2 linked regions of the Homo sapiens genome follow. The protein of the gene in region 1 interacts with the protein of each later gene in a pairwise test. Each region holds a gene or a part of one and is shown on either strand. Other genes may lie near its edges.

Region 1 (6,854 bases):
CTTGTAGGACAGGTCTGGTGTTGATGAAATCCCTCTGCTTTTGTTTGTCTGAGAAAGTCTTTATTTCTCCTTCATGTTTGAAGAATATTTTTGCTGTATATATTATTCTAGGGTAAAAGTTTTTTCCCTCCAGCAGCTTAAGTATGTCACGCCACTCTCTCCTGGGCTGTCAGGTTTCCACTGAATAGTCTGCTGCCAGATGTATTGCAGCTCCATTGTTTGTTAATTCTTTCTTTTCTTTTGCTGCTTTTAGGATCCTTTATCCTAGACCTCTGGGAATTTGATTATTGCATGCCTTGGAGTAGTCATCTTTGGGTTTATCTGCTAGGTGTTCTATACAATTCTTGTATTTGGATATTGATACTTTTCTATAGGTTTGAGTGGTTCTCTGATATTATCCCTTTGAATAATCTTTCTACCCCATCTCTTTCTCGACCTTGTCTTTAAGGCCAGTAACTCTTAGATTTGCTTTTTTAGGTAATTTTCTAGATCTTGTAGGCATGCTTCATTATTTTTTATTCTTTTTTCTTTGTCTTCTCTGACTGTATTTTCTAATAGCCTGTCTTTAAAAGTGCACTATTTCTTCTCCTTAATCAATTCTGCTATTGAAAGACTCTGATGCATTCTTCAGTATGTCAGTTGCATTTTTAAACTTGAGAATTTCTGCTTGATTCTTTAAAATTATTTCAATATCTCTATTAAATTTATCTGATAGAATTCTGAATTCTTTTTCTGTGTTATCTTAATTTTCTCTGAGTTTCTTCAAGATATTGATTTTGAATTCTCTGTCTGAAACATCACATATCTCTATTTCTCCAGGGTTGTTCCCTGGGGACTTATTTAGTTTGTTTGGTGAGGTCATGTTTTCCTGGGTGGTCTGGAAGCTTTTGGATATTCATTGGTGTCTGGGCATTGAAGACCACCCCAAGAGCCTGCTTAGTACTCTACCTCCCTGTGGCTGAGCTGGTACCTAAGGGGAAGGAAAACATCCTCTTTACTTTTCCTTCTGCTTTTGTCAAGCAGAAGGAGTCTCTCACATTAGCCACCACAGTTGGGAATATACTGGGTCTCACCTGAAACCAGCAGATCTCAGAGTCACACCCAAGAACCACAGTGTACTACCTGAGTATTGCTTCTGGCTATTGAGAACCCAAGGGCTCTTTAGCCAACAGGTGATGGGTCCTGCCCAGACTGTTTCTTTCCCTTCAAGGCAGCAGTTTCCCTTCTGGCCCAGGATGTGTCTAGAAATGTTATCCACAAGTTAGGACCTGGGATGGGGGTCTGATGACTCAGACTGATGCCCTGTCCTACTGTGGCTAAACTGATATTCAAGATAACAAAGTCCTCTTTACTCTTCCCCCTCTTCTCTTCAAGCAGAAGGAATGGGTCTCTTCGTGCTGTTTTTAATCACTCCAGCCACTAGCATTGGGACTGATGCAGACACTAAGGATCCAAATGATTATTTTTGTTTTGTTTTTTTAACTGCATTGGGATTAGGCAACAGAAGGGTCTAATGTGGCTGAGAGTTTTTGAGAGAGGAGCATTTTTAGGAGGGTAGCTGCATTCCAAGTAGAGAGCTCTGCTGGGGTAAAAGAGGCATGAGTGCTAGAAAAGGGCATGCAGTGATGAAGAGCCACTAACAGCACTACCTGGGGTTGGGGTAGGGGTGTCACAAGCACTCCCTTAGCTCCCCTGTCTGGTGTCTCAGTAAGTCGCATGCCCTCCAAGTCTACTGGCTCTGAGCTCAGCATTTGGGCTTGCTTAGGAGTTGCTGTCCTTGTGGCCTAGGCTGCCTTTAAGGTTATTTGGGGCCCCAGAGCACTTTACTGAAACTCAAGTTTTCACCACTGGTATGGGCTATTTCCTCTGAGGGAAATTGGCTGAGTTCAGCCTAGTTTTGCTTTCTGCTATGACAGAGCAGTACTGAGTTCAATTCAAAGTCTCCCAATCACTGCACTCTCCCTTTCCCAAGCCACAAGGCTGCTGCTGCTGGGGGATGGAGGACTGGCGGCATTGGCAAATCAAAACTGTCTTTCCTGGCTTCTTCAGTGCCTCTTTCAGTAATATGAAATTAAAACCAGGTATTGTGGTTACTCACCTGATTTTTGGTTCTTATAAAGGTGCTTTTTGTGTGTGTAGATAGCAGTTAAATTGTGTTCCTAGCCGGGGTGGGGGGTGGGTGGTCAAACCTTCTATTTGACCATCTTGCTTCACCCCTTTCTACTGATACTATTGTTGTTGATATTATTAGGAATGAAAATGAGCCCTGTGAGTTATAATTGTCTTCATTTTGCAGACCAGGAAACTGAGGCTCAGAGAAATATTAAGCAGCCAAAGTCACAGCGATTAAAAGAGGCGGGACCAAACTTTGACGGAGATCAGGACCCACTCCTTTGAGAAATCACCTCTTTTGCTAGCTCCAGCCTAAAAGTGCTATCTAGGAGAAGGTTTATGGGACCCCAGCAGATGTTCAACCAGAAACTTCTGACCTGCAGGGGCTGCAGAGGGGAAATCTGCCCTGATTAGAAGAGATTTGTTTTCCACCCATATTAGTTTGATCTCACATTGCTATAAAGAACTACCTGAGACTGGGTTTCAGAGGCTGTACCGTAGGCATGGCCAGAGAGGCTTCAGGAAACTTACAATTATGGTGGAAGAAGGGAAAGCAAGCACATCTTCACATGGCAGAAGGAGAGACAGAGCGAGCAAAGGGGAAGTGCCACACACTTTTAAATCATCAGATATCCTGAGAACTCACTCACTATCATGAGAACAGCAAGGGAGAAATCCGCCCTCATAATCCAATCACCTCCCACTAGGTCCCTCTCCCAGTGAATTATAATTCAATATGAGATTTGGATGGGGACACAGAGCCAAACCATCTAACCTTGCCATGTCCTACTGTACTTTTTGGAAGTTTTCTGAACTAACATTTCTTGTCTAGAAATATACACACTCAAGATCAATCTAACTATTAAAAACAAAAAATGCTTATTTTCCAGTACCTGTTTTATGTTAGATTCTGGGGTAAAAAGAAAAAGGTACTGACTTAATGTTCCTGTCTATCATTCATTTGTAGCTTGTGCATCCATCCTTTCATCTGTCTATCCATATCACAAACATGTATTAAACACCTGCTGTATGCTAGACACCATCCTGAAGGTGCATTTCTTCCCTAAGTCTTTTTTTTGCCTGCCGGAGAGTACAGTATTCTCAATTCAAGATAAGAAGTGGTGAATAAGAGTGAAGTGCAAATTGGTGAGGACACTTAGACACCGAGTGATTACTTCTGACAGGTTTCCACCACTCAGCTAAGTAGCAAGGTGAAGACTCCGAGGTTGAGTTGTAACTCACAGAGCGGGAAGACCAATAGGCAGTGAGAAAAGAAGTTGCAGTGGCTTCACGTTATAGCAGATGCCTGTGTGTACACATGGGAGCGAATATGGCTTTATGCTGTTTTTCAACCGCTTCAGCCACTAGCATTGGTACTGCTGCACACTAAGGATCCAAATGATTGTTTTTTTGTTTTTTGTTTTGTTTTGTTTTGTTTTGTTTTGTTTTAAATTGCATTGGGATTAGGCAACAGAAGGGTCTAATGCGGCCGGGATGAGACAGGAGAGTTTTTAGGAGGGTAGCTGCATTCTAAGTAAGGGACTCTGCGGGGGGAAAAGAGGCGCAAGCGTTGCAAGAAGGGAGTGCAGGGGGTTGAGCAGGCACCTCTACAGGAAATGGATGCTGTCCAGGTGCTGGTGGGCGCCCCAGGGCTACGTGGCGAAGCAGCTCAGCCGGTCCAATCAGAGTGCGTCCAGGGCTCGGGTTTCGCGATCTTTAAGTGACTGAGGCAGATCCCCACGCGGCACCTGGCCATGCTCTCAGCTCTCCCGCCGCGGTGAGTATGTTTAAGGAATCCTTTCCATTACGGCGGCCCCATACCTAGGTCCCCGTCCGGGACAGAGGAAGCCGCAACGGGTCCCCCCGGGCACCCGGGCCTTTCTCCTGCCTCCCGCCACGTCCGAGGGTCCGGCCGCAGCGCCGCCTGAGCCCCTCCGCGGCCGGCAGTGGGAGGCGGGCTCTCCGAAAGCCGTCGCGGTGGTCCCAGAAGCCGGGTCATAAATAATTCACGAGCCAGGGTCTGGCGAGCTAAGGGAAGGGCGGCGGCAGCGGTGACTAGGGCGGGAGCAGGAGCGGGAGCCGGGTGCACGGTGAGTAGCTGGGTCCTCATCCCGGAGCGAGAGAGGCATCTGCTGACCAGGCGCGGGGCTGAGCGCACTCCTTCCACTGTACTGGGGGTGTACAGTGAGGAGTGGACGGGTTCGCTCTGCGCCCCCCTTACCCTAGCCATCTGCGCCGCCTCCCTGGCCCCTCAGCAGGTGGTGCGGGCCCGGACAGCGGCTGGGGGCCAGAGGAACTGCGGGGAGAGCGTGGTGGTGCCGGTGCCCGTCCAACCCAAACTTTTTAGTCTGAGTGGTGGCCCGCGACGCCCCGCTTGGGTCTTCTTTCCATCCACTGGGGATGGGGGCGGGGGTGGGGGTAGCCGGCGGCCGTGGTTCCGGAGCGGGAGTCGGAGGTGAGTGTGCGAACTGGACCGGGGCCCCAGAGACTTCGGACTCGCTCTCGGGGAGAACGGTGACCGAGGTGAGACTCGCCAGGGTCTTGGGAACGAGTCTGCGGTAAAGGAAACTCTAGGGATGGCCCCGGGGACGTGAGGCGCTGAGCTTCCCTGGCTGAGTGCGGAAATGGGCCAACACTGTGCAGCCGACCACAGCGGGAGTAGGGATATGGGGGTACAAAGCGAGGCCATCTCCCCGCGTCCGTGGGAGAAAGCATGCACCCCTGGCTTGAAGCACCTTCCCAGCCTCTCGCTCCACGGCCCTTCTGCTTGCATGCGCGGGGACCCGCGGCTATCGCTAGATGGAGAACTGGGGTGCTCAAGGCGCACCCTGCCAGAACACGCCGACCGGACAACAAAGAGGAGCGTGGACAGACCAGGAGCTTCACGGCTGTAGAAAGTCAGAGGCTCGGGATCAGTTTCCCCGAAAGCCCGTGTCTGGAGGGGCAGGGAGTCGGATCGGAGGGAGGAACTAGCTCCAGAACCCCTTCTCTCTGGCAAGATCGCCCCCGATCGGTGCCCAACAGGGGCCGCGGCGGGGAACTGGCGCCGACGCGCTCAGAGCAGCCAAGTTACTCCGGCAACCCCCTCCCCTGCGCGGCTGCGAATTCCTGGAGTCTCTTGGCTTCCCGCGCCCGCCCCGCCGCTCATTCTTTTGTGTCCCGCAGCTCGCGAGAGGCTTCCGCCCAGAAGGGAGCTAGGCCTGGAGGGGGCTTGGCCTGGAGGTGGTTTGGAGGTAAAGGGCGGGGAAGCCGGCGCCCCAGGCTTCATTCTGCAACAGGTTGCTCCTGGAGCCCGCTAAGGCGACTGACCTTTCTGGAGAAAGGTTTGCTGGAGTTCCTGAGGGCGGCAGCTGTTCTTTGTTAAGAAAGCAAGTGCACGATCGTAGTTCTTGAGTGCCCCCCGAGACTCATGCGACACGAACAACCGCTGCGATATGTTGGGTTGAATCATAAGAAATTGTCGGTTTTTTGGATGGAAGATGTGAATATCGTCAACCTCATATGATTCAACTTGTGTGATGTTACTCATTTTTCTTTTCTCACCGTCCTTTCTGTCCCGGTTATCCTAGGAGCCCCGGTGGAGTTGAGCTCAGAGTATTGATGCTAGCAGAAGCAGACAGACCCCAGATAGCCTTCCAGCTGCGTGCCAGGTGCTTTACCTATTAGATCGCTAGCCTGCGAACCCTATGCGAAATCCTCCTTTGACAGAGGAGCAGAAGAAGGGTTGGAGAATTCAAACAACTGTCATCTTGGCAGAGTTAGTAAGGGGGACCAGAGCCCCCTTACTGTTGCTGTTGTCTGTCTATTCAGCAGTGCCCTTTAGTTTATTCTTGTTTTTTTTTTCATGTGTTCCATAATTTTTTTCTAAACTTCCTTCTGATTTCTAAACTTTTCTAAACTTCTTTCTGATTTCTAAACTTCCTTCTGATTTTTATACGAGACAGTTTCTTTGTGTTTTAGTACAATGAGGTGAACAAATGCATCAGAGGACAAGCTGAAAACTTTAAACCAAGTTGGTACTGTTTAAAATATAAAGGAAATAGGTTTTTCAGGGAGCAAAGAGCTATTTCTGAGATTTGTTAAGGGTCAAGATACTTTGTTAAAACAGTGGAAGCTGAGTCGGGGGTAATTTTTATCAGATAAAGGACTTCTTGGATTCTGTAAGTTGCCTGTTCACTCTGATGGTAGTTTCTTTTGCTCTGCAGAAGCTCTTTAGTTTAATTAGATCCCATTTGTCAATTTTGGCTTTTGTTGCCATTGCTTTTGGTGTTTTAGACATGAAGTCCTTGCCCATGCCTATGTCCTGAATGGTATTGCCTAGGTTTTCTTCTAGGGTTTTTATGGTTTTAGGTCTAACATTTAAGTTTTTAATCCATCTTGAATTAATTTTTGTATAAGGTGTAAGGAAGGGATCCAGTTTCAGCTTTCTACATATGGCTAGCCAGGTTTCCCAGCACCGTTTGTTGGGAATTGAACAATGAAAACACTTGGACACAGGAAGGGGAACATCACACACCGGGGCCTGTTGTCAGGTGGCGGGAGTGGGGAGGGATAGCATTAGGACATATACCTAATGTAAATGACGAGTTAATAGGTGCAGCACACCGACATGGCACATGTATACACATGTAACAAACATGCACATTGTGCACATGTACCCTAGAACTTAAAGTATAATAAAAAAATATATATACATATACATATATATATGTATATGTATATATATAAAAGGACTTCTTGAA
Region 2 (7,036 bases), on another chromosome or scaffold:
CATCCAGAAACCTGCCTTTTGTTAGAAAACATTCCAGTTGTTCAAGAACGTTACTCATCGTCAGCAGTGGCTCTTTCCTTATCTTTTTTTATCTCTGGTAGGCTGATTACTCTGAGTGCAAACCTTTTCACTGTTCCAGAGAGGAGCCTGACAACCACATTCTCCTTCTCAAGGTAAGAATGGCAGCTGTTACAACAGCCCTCGGCTTTTCATTTGGGAGCTCTGGTTAAGTTGTTGGGAATGGACTCCTGAAAGTCCCGGGACCCTGTGTTTTTCCCATCTCCTTGGCAGTTTGCCAGGTTTCCCATCCTAAGCCCTCACTGCTCACTGTGATCCTGCGGTTTGGAAGCCTGGCTTGTGCTTAAGTTACAATTCTGGTGAACCAAAAAGGGGAGTCCCCATGCTCAGCGAATGGTTGGTAGATCAAAGACTTCTCTGCTTACCACAGAAGCTAATTTGGTCAATTGAAAGAGAACTTCCTCAGAGTAATCTTCTCAGTGACAGATGGGGGTGCGTCGGGGGTGTGGAGCAATGTTCAAAAGTGTCTGCATTAAGTGAAATACATTGCCGAATACACTTAGAACATGTGTGCACTAATTATTGAGCATTTGTAGTTACAGAATCTTTGCATGTTAAGCCTTAGAAAATATTTACTGATCTAAAACAGGACGAGAGTGTTACCCCAACAAAGAAGAGAGACAGCATAGATGGACGTGGGCACATTGAAAGTTATGTGTTTAATTGATGATTGCTTTTTACTTGATGCATTTTGTCTTTTGGTTTTAGGTGTGGTGCTTACTGCGCAGGCTGACCAGGTTAGTGTGTCAGGCCTGATTCCATTTTTTTAGGTGAAGACATCAAATCAGAGGTTTGGTTTTTCTGAGGGCAGGTGGCAAATGCCAAGGAATGCCTGTGTGAGGCTTCGGGGACTGGGCCTGGTTGTCTCATGGTCTTCTTCTTGGCTATCAAGGCTATCAACTACCAGCCCAGAGGCCTTCTGCCTGTCAAACAGGCCTCCCACTTTGCATCTGATGGCTGGAAGAGAGGGAGGAAACATGCAAAGGAAATTGCTTAAGATTATGAGCTGATCTGGCCAGGGCCATGTTTATGTTCCTGTTTCTTGCCTAAAGAGCAGATTGAATTATTAGCACCTGTGTTTGTTAATGATAATTATATGTTTCAAGTACAAAGCAGAATTCTGTAAAATATCTACTAAGATGCCTTTCTAAATGGATAACATTTTATGACCCTAATAAGGCCCAAGACAACAAGCAGGAATTTATATATTATCATCACTCTTTTCCCCGGGGCATATTGGGTGGAATGTGAGCTGTAACTTCAACTTAAGAATCTGCTAGTAAGAAACCCAGAGGACTTGAGGATCAGAGGAATGACGGTCTAGTCATAAGACATATGGGAACATTGGGTCATTTTCCAAAGCAAGGAAACGTAATTCATTGTTAGTAACAGTGTTAAACAGTGTCAGGATCATCATCATCATGATCACCGTGGTGATAAAATGTAACTCTATTATTAACCATCTCTATCACCACCATCACTACAGGTAACATTTGTTTGTTCTTACTGTCTACCAGGCAACACCCTAAGCATTTTGCATGCATTCTCTCACTCAATCTGCACAGCATTCCTGTAAGGAAGGGTCTATTAATATCCACCTTTTATAGTTGAGGAAACTGAGGCTTACCTAAGAGATTAGGTAAGTTGCCCAAAGTTAGACAAGCTAAAAGGTGGCAGAACTGGAATGTAACCCATTGAACAGCACTGAATGGGGCCAACCCATGTGGAGTATTTACGGCTGTGCTTTACTCGATGTCCACACTCACCCCTGCTTGCATTCCCTTTTGTCCTGACCACCACCTACTGTTGACACTCTAGCTATCTCTTCTGCATGAAGGTAGCCAAAAAATTCAAGAGCATTTAAGTAGTTCAAGATCGTTAAAGCATATTTGGCCTATGGAGAACAGCAGAAAGAATTAAGAGTAAAAATCACCCAATTTTAAAAGGTGCCAGTTGTAGTCATGAACACTTTAGTGTATTTTGCTGTTGTTTTCCCCTTTGTATTTACTTTTTTCACATAGTCTCTATGTACTTAAGTTTTGAACTTTAAACGTAACCAAGTCGTTTCTTGCGCTTTTGCCTGTTTTAATGGCTGCTGAGTACTCTATTAAATGTGTATGGTTAGAGAGCCTTAAGTCTACTCCACAAGAAGTTATATCCTTGACTTGCTCCTACGTGATAAGTGCGGAGTTTCTGCTCACCATATGTGATAGCTAATTTCTGTTTTCTGGGCAACTGGGTTGGAATTGTGGGGTGCCTGCATCCCCTCACATTTTAAATACCTTGCATCTTGAGAGGGGTCTCTGTGGGGGGTGGGGCAGGAGTCCTGCTTGCCTGGAGCCCAGATTCAGCTCTGTGCCAAAACTAGCTGTAAGTTACTTTATTTTATGGCATCTTCATCTGTGAACATCTCATCAGCTCTGTAATTCCACACAGTCAGGAGTTTTCTGAACTCTCTTGATTCATAACCTGAGGAGTTTCAATAGATGCAGCAATTTTGGTTGAGCTCAGTGGAGTTACTCTGAGATGCTTTAAGCAGGGAATTTTGTTTTTCAAGATGATCAGACCTGTAAGCTCTTGGAAGGAGAGGGTCTTACTTTTATATAATTCTTGCCATTCCCGCCTCTGCACCCTCAACAAACTTCTTCCTCCATGCTGACATACCCACAAAATAGATAGTACAAGGTATGAAATCAACAAACAGAAGAACAAACAAGTAATGCACAGACAAAGGCTACCGGGCTTGTGTAAGAACCTTTAGCATCATGGCTGTCCAGCTTATCAAATAATTGAGTAAGATTGTTTTCATTTCAATGTGTTAGCTTTGTTTATAACAAATGGGGACTTAAGCCTCCAGATCCTCTCATCATATATTTCAGAGTAATTTCCCTATAAAGTTGGGTATCAGTTCTTCCCTCAGGTTACAGGTGAGGGAACACTGATTTATGGAACTTGCTATTTTTTCCCCCTGTGTCCTGGAGTGAAGTAACCTTTTGCTTAGGTCACAGTAAAATCAAAGCTTAGAATGTAATCATTCTCTTGTTTTGGGAAGGGAAGACTTTTGCTCTAACCTGGGGGGTCAACAATTGGGTCTATGAAATAAACTGACAACAGGCAGATTAACAGGAGAAAAGGTATGCAAATTTATTATATGCATGAGTGCATCATAGGAAAGAAAGTGAATATCCAAAGACATAGTCAGATTTAGGAGCTCATATATTCTCTTCGTAAGAGAGAGAGGAGGAAGGACGTAGGCAAATAAGAGAAGAGTAAATGATTTTTTGGGAAGATGAATGGGCCCTCAGAAGAATAGATCGGAGATACGGTAGTTTGTGACAGAGTTTGTCTGGGTGGGGTGTGTGTTCTAGTTTCCTTACCGGTGATAAGATTTAATCTCCTCTGGTTGATGAAACTTCTGTGGAGGGAATTGATGACAACCTAGTTTCTTTTGGAGCATCTGTCTGTCTTTAGGCAGATAAGGGGAGCTCAGAGCAAGCCTCTCTCTGCACTTGCTGTTTTTCAAATGCCTTCAGCTCAAAATAATCATACTAATACAGTGTGTTTTGGGGTGGCATATCCTGAAGTCCTTCACTTGCTTTTACCAGCAGAATAAAATGAAGGCATTCTGGGCTTCCTGCATTCTTGGAGCCACATATCTGGACCATGGATATGACATGATTGGTTCTGACTGGCTCCCCTGATTCTCCCTTAGTGATGCTGATCTTGAATTTTGTGACTCATGCCATGAAGGTGTCTACCCACACTGTTGTGCAATATCCAAGACCTGTGGAATAACACTGCTTCCAAGGAAGCCAAATTCAGGCATTTCTGGCTTTGTATTCTATTGCAGACTAAAAGGAACAAACAAAATCCTGTATTCCCACGATATCCCTCTACAAGGATCTAACTTGGCACCCTACCTTGGTGCTGAAAGCTTGCCTCCATCTTCCCAAATTTGATCACTAATTGGTCTTAGCTTTTTCCAAGTGAATGTGCTGCCTCACTGGCCCTAGGTGGGTGATATAAGAGCTTGGAAACACCTTGTGATGGTTGGTAAACCTGCTGGCAAGTGGCCTGGTTTTATGTGTGTGTGTTTGAAATACTATTGATAATAAATCCTCATTTGTATCAGTGAGGGCTCTGCATCAGTTATCTATTGCACAACAAACCACCTCATACATAGTGGCTTAAAACAACAGCTGTTTAATTTGCTCATGATTCTGTGGGTCAGCAATTTGGGCACTTTTGCTAATATTGCCATTTGGGCTCAGCTGGGTGGTTCTTCTGTTAGTTTCACCTGGGGTCACTCATGCCCCTGTGCTCAGCTGGTACCTTGGAGCTAGGTGATCTAGGGGATCTCAGCTGAGATGACTCATTTCTGCCACATGGTCTGCCCCTCCAATAGCCTAGCTCAGCCTCCTTGACATGACAGAACTTTCTGGCAAGAGGACAAGAGCAAAAACTATAAGCTTGAAGCCTAAACTCAGAAATTACGTAGCCTCTCTTCTGCCACATTCTGTTGGTCAAAGAAAGCTATAGGACCAGCCCAGATTCAAGGGGAGGGCATTGGAAATAGACTCCACCTCTAACTTGGAGTAGCTGCAAAGAATGCATGGCCATTTTAAATTTATTGCAGGCTCTTAACTTTGTTATAAAAGCAATCTGAAATTACTTTAAAATTATTTTGTCATTTAAAAATCCTGGAATAGGGATGGTCTTGTCAGCCCATCTGAGAGGAGTCTGGAAAGTGGAGGTCTTCAGTAATGTACCTAAGAATATAATAAAGTTAATAACAACACAAGCAGGCACTAATATTGTTTTTACTATATGCCCAGCACTATATGGAGTCCTTTAGATATCATAACTCATTTGGTCATTACAAAATCTTATGAATAGGTGTTATTTTTATCCCTAACTTATAGGTGAGAAAACTGAGGCACAGAGCGGTTAAGCAACTTCCCTCGAAGTCATACAGCTAAGTCGTAGACCTGGGATTCCACTCCAGGAGGTCAGGCTTCAGAGTCTGCATGTTAACCCTAATGCTTCTCAAGTTAATGGAAATTACATCTTTCTGACTCCTAGCAGAGTTCTCTCTTGGACTGTGTGGTTTTTCTAGAGACAGGGGGATTGGCTATTTAGAGATGGTTGCTAGGCCTTCCTGGGTACACCCAAGTGACCAAAAATGGTTCTGTCACATTATAGGAGACCCTAATTAGATGTAATAAAGACACTTATTATCCCATGGAACACACAGTAATTCTCCTGAGCCCAACAGTATTTCCTGGGGGTAGGGGTGGAGGTAGAGGGTTCTTATTCTTCTCTTTGGTTGGCAGGCATTTGAAGAATGAGGATATTTAATAACGCCCTCTATAACCTTTCAGGTAGCCTCTTATTTTTTGGTTTCAAGTAATCAGAAAGACTTAGCCTCAAAGAAAAAAATGTTGTGTTTATTTAGCTTTTTGTTTAAGGACTATCCCAAGGAAAGGGTGGGTTGATAGCCTTTTTAATCTAGGGTTTGTTGAACTCAATTAAGTCCAGTGTCCAGGTAGAACAGGTGGTTTATCTAAGAAAAATGACAAATTTTGCTGACATTTTTGAGGTCACCCTTGCAGCCATGAATAAAGTGGCTCATAGTACCAATATGAGTTACAATAAGAAGTTACTTAACCTCTCTGTGCCTCAGTTTTCTAATCTATAAATTAGGGACCCTTTCTGTTTGAGGGGCATGGCACATTTAGGAGCCAGGACTAGACTTGCGTCTCCAGGATGGTCATATCTCACTCTCCATTTAGCTATGGAGTGGGGGAGAGACTGCCAATCTAAGGCTTAAGGGAAGTCACTCTGGCTGTCTAGCATCTTATCTCCCTTAAATCCCATCCTTGTCTCTTGACTCTACAACTGGCCTCCTTCTGACACCCTCATCGTCTTATGTGGGCTCAGGTTGGCATCAATGTCTGTTGCATTGCTACCGAGAGTGTTTGCTACAACTTTGCACTCATGAGAATTTGCATGTTCACCCTAATATGGACTCCAGCTAGAATCTGAGCTGGAAAATGGGCAATCTGGACATGCATGGTCCCACCAGAGAGGAGAGATCACAGGATGGGGACTAGGGAGACCCAAGCTGCAGACTGCCCCGCCCCTTCCATCATTGCTCACCTTCCCACACCAAAAACTTCTCAGGACAGCTTTCTTGCTTGTCAACCACGACATCCTAGGGTTATTTTCCCCATACCAGTGGAAACCCTGTTACCTTCATAATCTTTTCCTTCAACTAATCTTGAAGAGTTTATAATCCTCTTCTGCATTAAGTGTTTTTTTTTTTTCTCTTGTGGATGCTCACTTTCCTCGTTTCTTATTCAAACCAGCTGGGACAGTTTATCCCCTAGCATAGAAATGAAAACCTGACAGGCAGGTCTCTGCAGTCGAGATTGGGCTGGTTCTCTCTCCAAACAGTATTTTACTGTTGGCTGCTGCAGTTGAATAGCTCAGCCTGCCATTATGACAGAATGGCCCAGGACAGACTACAGGCAGGAAGCGTCTTTTGTTTCAGGGGGCTTTGGAGCTGTTTTTTCCCTGCCATAAACTTAATTGCTTTCTGTGATATATCTGGCAAACCTACCACTGTCCTTTTTGCTGCCTCCTGCTTGGTCAATCAGGACTACCAAAGCCTGCAGCTTTGCTTTTTAGGAGGTTTGGTTGATTAACATGAGTTTGCCTTTGGCTTTTGCTAACATTGCCTTTTTTGGGGCACTAGTGGTGCCCAGGAGAAGGATGTGAGTGTGGTACGTGTGTGGGGAGGTATAGATGAGAGACAGCTGGGTCTTCTGGGACAGTGGGGGAGCAGGCTCAGAAAATTGTGGTTCACCACAGGGTCCTCACGTGCATGAGTAAGTCATCCTCCTTCCTGAAAGGGAGGTTTTATTCACCTTATCACCATAGAGGATGTTTCAGATGT

Evidence for each region. The genes of interacting proteins can lie anywhere in the genome.
Region 2: the proteins of PROM1 (region 1) and LYPD6B interact in a protein complementation assay, tested with the Homo sapiens proteins (one study listed by IntAct).

What each region holds. Positions count from the first base shown.
Region 1 is NC_000004.12:16,081,013-16,087,866, reverse strand, and holds the start of PROM1 (prominin-1 isoform 1 precursor), read left to right. Parts: upstream 1-3,843; 5' UTR 3,844-3,889; intron 3,890-4,137; exon of another isoform or gene 4,138-5,762; intron 5,763-6,854. UniProt on the Homo sapiens protein: May play a role in cell differentiation, proliferation and apoptosis. Binds cholesterol in cholesterol-containing plasma membrane microdomains and may play a role in the organization of the apical plasma membrane in epithelial cells.
Region 2 is NC_000002.12:149,160,663-149,167,698, forward strand, and holds part of LYPD6B (ly6/PLAUR domain-containing protein 6B), read left to right. Parts: intron 1-101; coding exon 102-173; intron 174-786; coding exon of another isoform or gene 787-815; intron 816-7,036. UniProt on the Homo sapiens protein: Likely acts as a modulator of nicotinic acetylcholine receptors (nAChRs) activity. In vitro acts on nAChRs in a subtype- and stoichiometry-dependent manner.